Linked DNA regions of Homo sapiens: region 1 is linked to region 2. Evidence: fine-mapped expression QTL. A gene starts in region 2. The other region holds a variant in brackets. All regions are shown on one strand. Distances are from middle to middle. Region 1 has its middle 48 kb from the start of GNG13. Region 2 holds the start of RPUSD1 (RNA pseudouridine synthase domain containing 1).

Evidence for each region. PIP is the estimated chance that this variant, and not a neighbour inherited with it, causes the effect.
Region 1: its variant is fine-mapped to the expression of RPUSD1 in whole blood (INTERVAL, PIP above 0.99).

The regions. Positions count from the first base shown.
Region 1 is chr16:847,304-850,197 of GRCh38, reverse strand. No RefSeq gene overlaps it. Among named protein-coding and RNA genes, the nearest start is that of GNG13, 48 kb to the right of the region's middle. The variant C/T (reference allele first, on the strand shown) is at 1,799.
Region 2 is chr16:786,855-789,709 of GRCh38, reverse strand. It overlaps RPUSD1 (RNA pseudouridine synthase domain containing 1), which reads left to right and starts at 1,329. Exons shown (of 6, transcript NM_058192.3): 1 at 1,329-1,454; 2 at 1,966-2,154; 3 at 2,233-2,356; 4 at 2,531-2,633; 5 at 2,782-2,855. The coding sequence starts at 1,973. It overlaps CHTF18 (chromosome transmission fidelity factor 18), which reads right to left and starts at 1,090. Exons shown (of 22, transcript NM_022092.3): 1 at 935-1,090; 2 at 585-779; 3 at 350-500; 4 at 1-163. The coding sequence starts at 1,025. RefSeq lists silencers at 797-856, 1,037-1,496, 1,517-1,606 and an enhancer at 2,056-2,855.

The sequences.
Region 1 (2,894 bases), 60 kb before region 2:
GTCTTCCGACAAGAACAACCAGGCACCTTCCAACGAGAACAACCAGGTACCTTCCGATGAGAATGACCCAAGAAATTGTCCCACACGTGGCCTGGTACCTTCCGACAAAGGCTCTGAGACCATTCAATGGGAAGAGGACAGCCTTTTCAGCAAATGGTACTGGGAAAGCTTTATCTCCACATGCAAAATAATGAATGAAGCTGGCCCCTTACCTAACAGCATACACAAAAATTAACCCAAAAAACATAGGATGAAACACCTAAATGTAAGAGCTAAAACTGTAAGACTCAGAATAAAACCTGGGAAAATCTTAAGGACATTGGATTTGGCAGTGTTTTCTTGGATATGACAACAACAGCACCGGCAACAACACAGAAAATAAATTGGACTTCATCAAAATTTGACATTTCTGGCCGGGTACAGTGGCTCACACCTGTAATCCCAGCACTTTGGGAGGCCAAGGCAGGCGGATCACCTGAAGTCAGGAGTTTGAGACCAGCCTGGCCAACATAGTGAAACCCCGTCTGTGCCAAAAATACAAAAATTAGCCTGGCGTGGCAGGCACCTGTAGTCCCAGCTACTCGGGAGGCTGAGGCAGAAGAATCGCTTGAACCCGGGAGGCAGATGTTGCAGTGAGCTGAGACCGTACCACTGCACTCCAGCCTGGGCAATAGAGTAATATTCTGTCTTTAAAAAAAAAAACTGTGGCTATAAGTGAGACTGCAGAGCTGCCCCGGGCTGCTGTCTGTGGAAGCCCTGCCCTGCGGGAGCAGCCACAGCTGTAACCCCACCTCTGAAGTAAAGCTGTTTCCTTCCACCTCTGGCTCGACCTTGAATTCTTTCCTGGGCAAAGCCAAGAACCCTCTGGGACTAAGCTCCTCTTTCGGGCTCGTCTGCCATGCATCAGAATGATGTGGCCACGTGGAGACTGTCTGGGGGTTCCTCGAAATGTTCAGTGTAGACGGATGACCACATGACCCCGCAACTCCACGTCTGCACGTAGACCCGGGAGAGCTAGAAACGGCGACCACGTGACCCCGCAACTCCACGTCTGCACGGAGACCCGGGAGAGCTAGAAACGGGGACCACGTGACCCCGCAACTCCACGTCTGCACGTAGACCTGGGAGAGCTAGAAACGGGAACCACGTGACCCCGCAACTCCACATCTGCATGTAGACCCGGGAGAGCGGGAAACGGGGACCTGGGTGTGCTTGCACCGGAACGTTTGCAGCAGCCCAGAGGTGGGGACAGCCCAGATGAACAGACCAGGTGTGCTCACCCATGAGCATTACGCAGCCGCAAAGAGGAGCGAGGCCCCGACGCTCAGATGAGCCTTGAGAACCTGATGCCCAGTGAACCCGCCAGACACAGAGGGCACCGGTCCTGCGATGCCGTCTCTGGAATGTCCAGAACAGGGAAACCCACAGAGACGCTGGGCAGGGAGAAGGTGGACGGCTCTCGGGGCTGCTGGCAGGAACAGGGAGAGCGGGCATGACGGCTCACAGGTCCAGAAGGTTCTCTGGCGGGTGATGAAAATATCTGGAATTAGGCAGAGATGCTGGTTGTGCGTGTGGCCAATGTGTTACGTGCACCACACTGCTGACCTTTAAGTGGTTAATTTTATGTAAATGTCAACTTCACCTCAATGTTTTGAAATACAGCAAAGCAAAGCAGAGTGTCTTAAGCGTCCTGAGACCCTGGGCCTCCCTGCCTCAGGGCCCAGACCCTCACCCTGCCAGAAGGTCCAGTGGGGCTCAGGATGCCGGGCAGGGAACGCGCTTCACTCCTTCTCTGTGG[C/T]GTGCATGGGGCTGGAGCCGCTTAAGACCAAGGCTCAGTGCACCTGGATGCTGGTTAACCCGAAAGTGCCGTACGGAGCCACCAGTGGTCCCACAAGCTCTGATGATGGCCGCAGTCACGGACATGCAAACTTTGATTCACTGAGGACCACGCGAGCAAATGACAGGTGATGCCGGCAATTCTCAGCCCACTGCTGCCTGGATAGCTTGCCCCTTACGCCGCGAGCCAGGCTGCCCACCCAGCCCACACCCGGGCCCACCTGGCGCTTAGCAAATGGCCTTCCCACATCACGCTGGTGGCTTTCCGCACCACCCAGTGTTCACCTGGGCTCCCACACACCAGCAGGAGGCAGCAAGCAGGCACCTCCCTCCCATCTTGCTCCAAGCGCTGTGTGCGGGAGGGATGGAAACCTCCAGGCGCTGGGAAGAAGCACCCCAGGCACTAGGCAGGGGAAGGCTGGGGGGCCTCCGTGCCCACCCCCAGGTCTGAGCGCATTGGGGAACCCGGGGCACCGGGAGGGTTTGCGGACAGTGCCACCCTCCCTGCAGGGCTGCGGCCACCTTACTTTGCCTGGGCCGCCTGGCCAGGGGCCGCAGCTGACCCGCTGAGTCTGGGTTGGTGGCTCACCGTTCTAGGGTTTACACCTGACCCAGTGTGATCTATACCTGCCCAGGTCATACCACACTGTCCAAACTGTTACAGCTTTCAAACCAGCCCTGGACTGGCCGTCATAGCCGCCTTGATTGTCGTTGGCCCATTGCTGGAAGCAAGTTGGCGAAAGCTTCCGTCAGCTCTGACGGTTGGTGTGCAGACAGATGGCGGGCCGCAACATCCTTTCCTCCCCTCCCTGAGCCTCTTTTTCTCTTGGGTGGCAGGTGGGGCCATCTCCTCTGCCTCATCTTTTTCCTAACCTGGAAGTTGTTCCTTAAACACCTGCCCACGGTGGGCTACTGTGAAGCCCTTCACCCGCAGCCATGTGGACATGCTGGAGGAACATCAACAGACTCTCATCTGAACAACAAAAAAGAGGAAAGAACACTCAGCAAAGGAAAGAAGAGGCACTGAGCCAGGTCAGCACCCCGGGCCGCTGGGAGAA
Region 2 (2,855 bases):
CCCCGGGGCCATGGGGTCAGCACGCAGCACCAGATAAGCCCGGACGCCCTCCGTGGATGTCACGTGGACGTAGTCCTCCAAGATGGGGGGCCGCCTCAGGACGGGATTGCGGGCAGCTGGTGAGGCCCGTGTGAGACCCACGTCGGCAGCAGCTTCTGAGACTCTGGAGAGAGACCGGGGCTCAGTGGCAGAAACTCAAGCGTGGGGTCACCCTTGGATATGGGTGTCCGAGACTGCTCTCAGCCATGGAACCCTCCCCACCCCCCAGGCCTCATCCAGGGCACGGGATGGGCTCCATCTGAGTCCCACTGGACAGATGGGATGGGACGCCCATGTCCAAGCCACACACCCGTGGCCCCAAAGCTCTGCGAGGTCCTCAGGGCTCGGCGGCGGGGTGATGTCCGTCGGCGAGGAGTCGGGAGGGGGCGGCTCCTCCATCTCCTCCGATCTGAAGTTCAGCCTCTTGACCACCTGCAGCCTAGGCCGTTTGATCCTGGGGGCTGGGGGAGACACATGCAGGGAACCAGAGGCCTCCTCAGCCTCGCGCCCACTCCGGAGGCCCTGGGGCAATGCCGCCAACCTACCGTGGGGCAGGGACCCGGCCGGCTGCAGGTCGGCGTCCACCTGCCTCTTCCTGGCGCCGCCCTGGCTGCTGCCCACAGATGCGGCTGGGGCGGGACTGGAGGCCGCGTCCCCTCTGGCAAGGGCCTCCTCGAACGTCCGCGGGGGTCGGCCCGCGGTGAACAGGGGGACCCCGGAGGGCGACGGAGTCGACGCCCCTGCTGGGAGAGGAGATTGTCAGCGGCCGCCCCGAGACAGCAGATCCCGCCAGCGGCGACGTGGAGGCCCCTTCGGCCCCCGGCACGCCCTCCCCGAGGTCGCCACTGTCCCGGCTTTCGCAGCTCCTCCCCAACGGCCGGGGGCCGCGCCCCACCTTCCAGCTCTGCCAGCACCTCCAGCTCGGCCGCGAACTGGTTGTGGAAATCATCCTCGACGCCGCACAGCTCCTGCTCGTAGTCCTCCATACCGTCCGCGAGCCCGAGCTCCCGCTCCGAACCTCCCGCGCCGCCGCCGCCGTCGCGCACTGCCCGCCCCGAGCGTGCCGGGCGCCGCCAATCAGCAGCCGGCGTGCCCGGCGGCGCGCGCCATTGGTTGGCGTGGCGGAGGCGGGGCTGCGCGAGGGGTGGGCGGGGCGAGTTCCTGCTCCGCAGCCCCCGCGTCCTGTCCTGGGGAGCTCGCCATTGGCCGCCGCAGCCGCCCTTCCGCGGCGGGGGCGGGCCGGGGGCGGGCCGGGGGGGGGGGCGGGGCTGCGCGCGCAGCGGTGCAGGGCGGAAGCGCTGCCAGGCGTCCGGAGCGGAGCTTCCAGGGTCTCTGGGTCGCCAGCGCGCGGGCGCGCGGCTGGAGCCGGCGCCGGGCACGGCATCGGGGGCCTGGACTGCACGGCCCGGCAGCAGGTTGGTCTTGGCGTGGGCGTGGGCGCGGGAGGGGCTCGGAGCCAGGGTCGGCCTGCCCACCGGGCCTGTGCGGGGCGCGGGTCTGCGCGGACTGCGGGGAGCGAGGAGGCCCCAGCCCTAACCCGCGCTGCGGGCAGACCTGGCTGCCGGGCCTGGTAGTGCTGCAGCCCCTCCCCGCCCCCACCGTCGGGCAGAGGCATTCACGTGCATCCCCTGGAGGGGAGGGTCTGTGGGGAGGATCTGTGGGGCAGGTTTGGAACGGGCTCTTTCTCCAGGCTTAGGTCAGGCAGGGCCCTTCAGGTCAGCCCGGAGCAGGCTGACTCCTTGACTCCCCAGCTGACGCCCTGGGGACTGATCTCGGGGACTGAGGATGCAGGTGCACAGTAGGGCTGCGGACCCGGCTCGGTGGCTTCGCACCGGAGCCCGGGTGGGGCGGTGCGGGTACCTCTGTATGCTGGGCTGGGGGCGCACCACGTGCTCACAGCACACGCACCCACGCGTGGCTCGGCAGGCCGGCCATGGAGCCAGGCAGCGTGGAGAACCTGTCCATCGTGTACCGGAGCCGCGACTTCCTGGTGGTCAACAAGCACTGGGACGTTCGCATTGACAGCAAGGCGTGGCGGGAGACTCTGACCCTGCAGAAGCAGCTGCGGTACCGCTTTCCCGAGCTGGCCGACCCTGACACCTGCTACGGGTTCAGGTAGGGGGGGCGGCCGGAGCCCCACGGTGGCGTCTGTGGAGGAAAGTGGCTCAGACTCTGGACTCTGTCCCACTCCAGGTTCTGCCACCAGCTGGATTTCTCCACCAGCGGGGCGCTGTGCGTGGCCCTAAACAAGGCAGCCGCCGGCAGCGCGTACAGGTGCTTCAAGGAGCGGCGCGTGACCAAGGCTTACCTGGCATTGGTAAGACCTGGTCAGTCCTGGGGTGGGGCGTGGGGACTCAGGATTCCCACCCCACTTGGGCAGCCCTGGCTCAGAGCCTCCCACCACGCTCTACGTGGTTGCTTGGTGTTAGGTGGGCTCCCCGGCAGCACTGGGCTGCCCCGTGAACTGCGTGCGATTCTCCCTCTCCTGCAGCTGCGGGGGCACATCCAGGAGAGCCGGGTAACCATCAGCCATGCCATTGGCAGGAACAGCACGGAGGGCCGGGCCCACACCATGTGCATCGAGGGCTCGCAGGGTGTGGCAGGCAGGGACCCACCGGGCGGGCATCGTGGGTTGGGGTGGGCCTGGGCAGGCAGGGACCCACCGGGCGGGCATCGTGCGTTGGGGTGGGCCTGGGCCCCGGGTCAGTCCCACTAACCTCACACCTGCCTTCTGCGCCCCAGGTTGTGAGAACCCAAAGCCAAGCCTCACAGATCTCGTGGTTCTGGAACACGGGCTGTACGCAGGCGATCCTGTC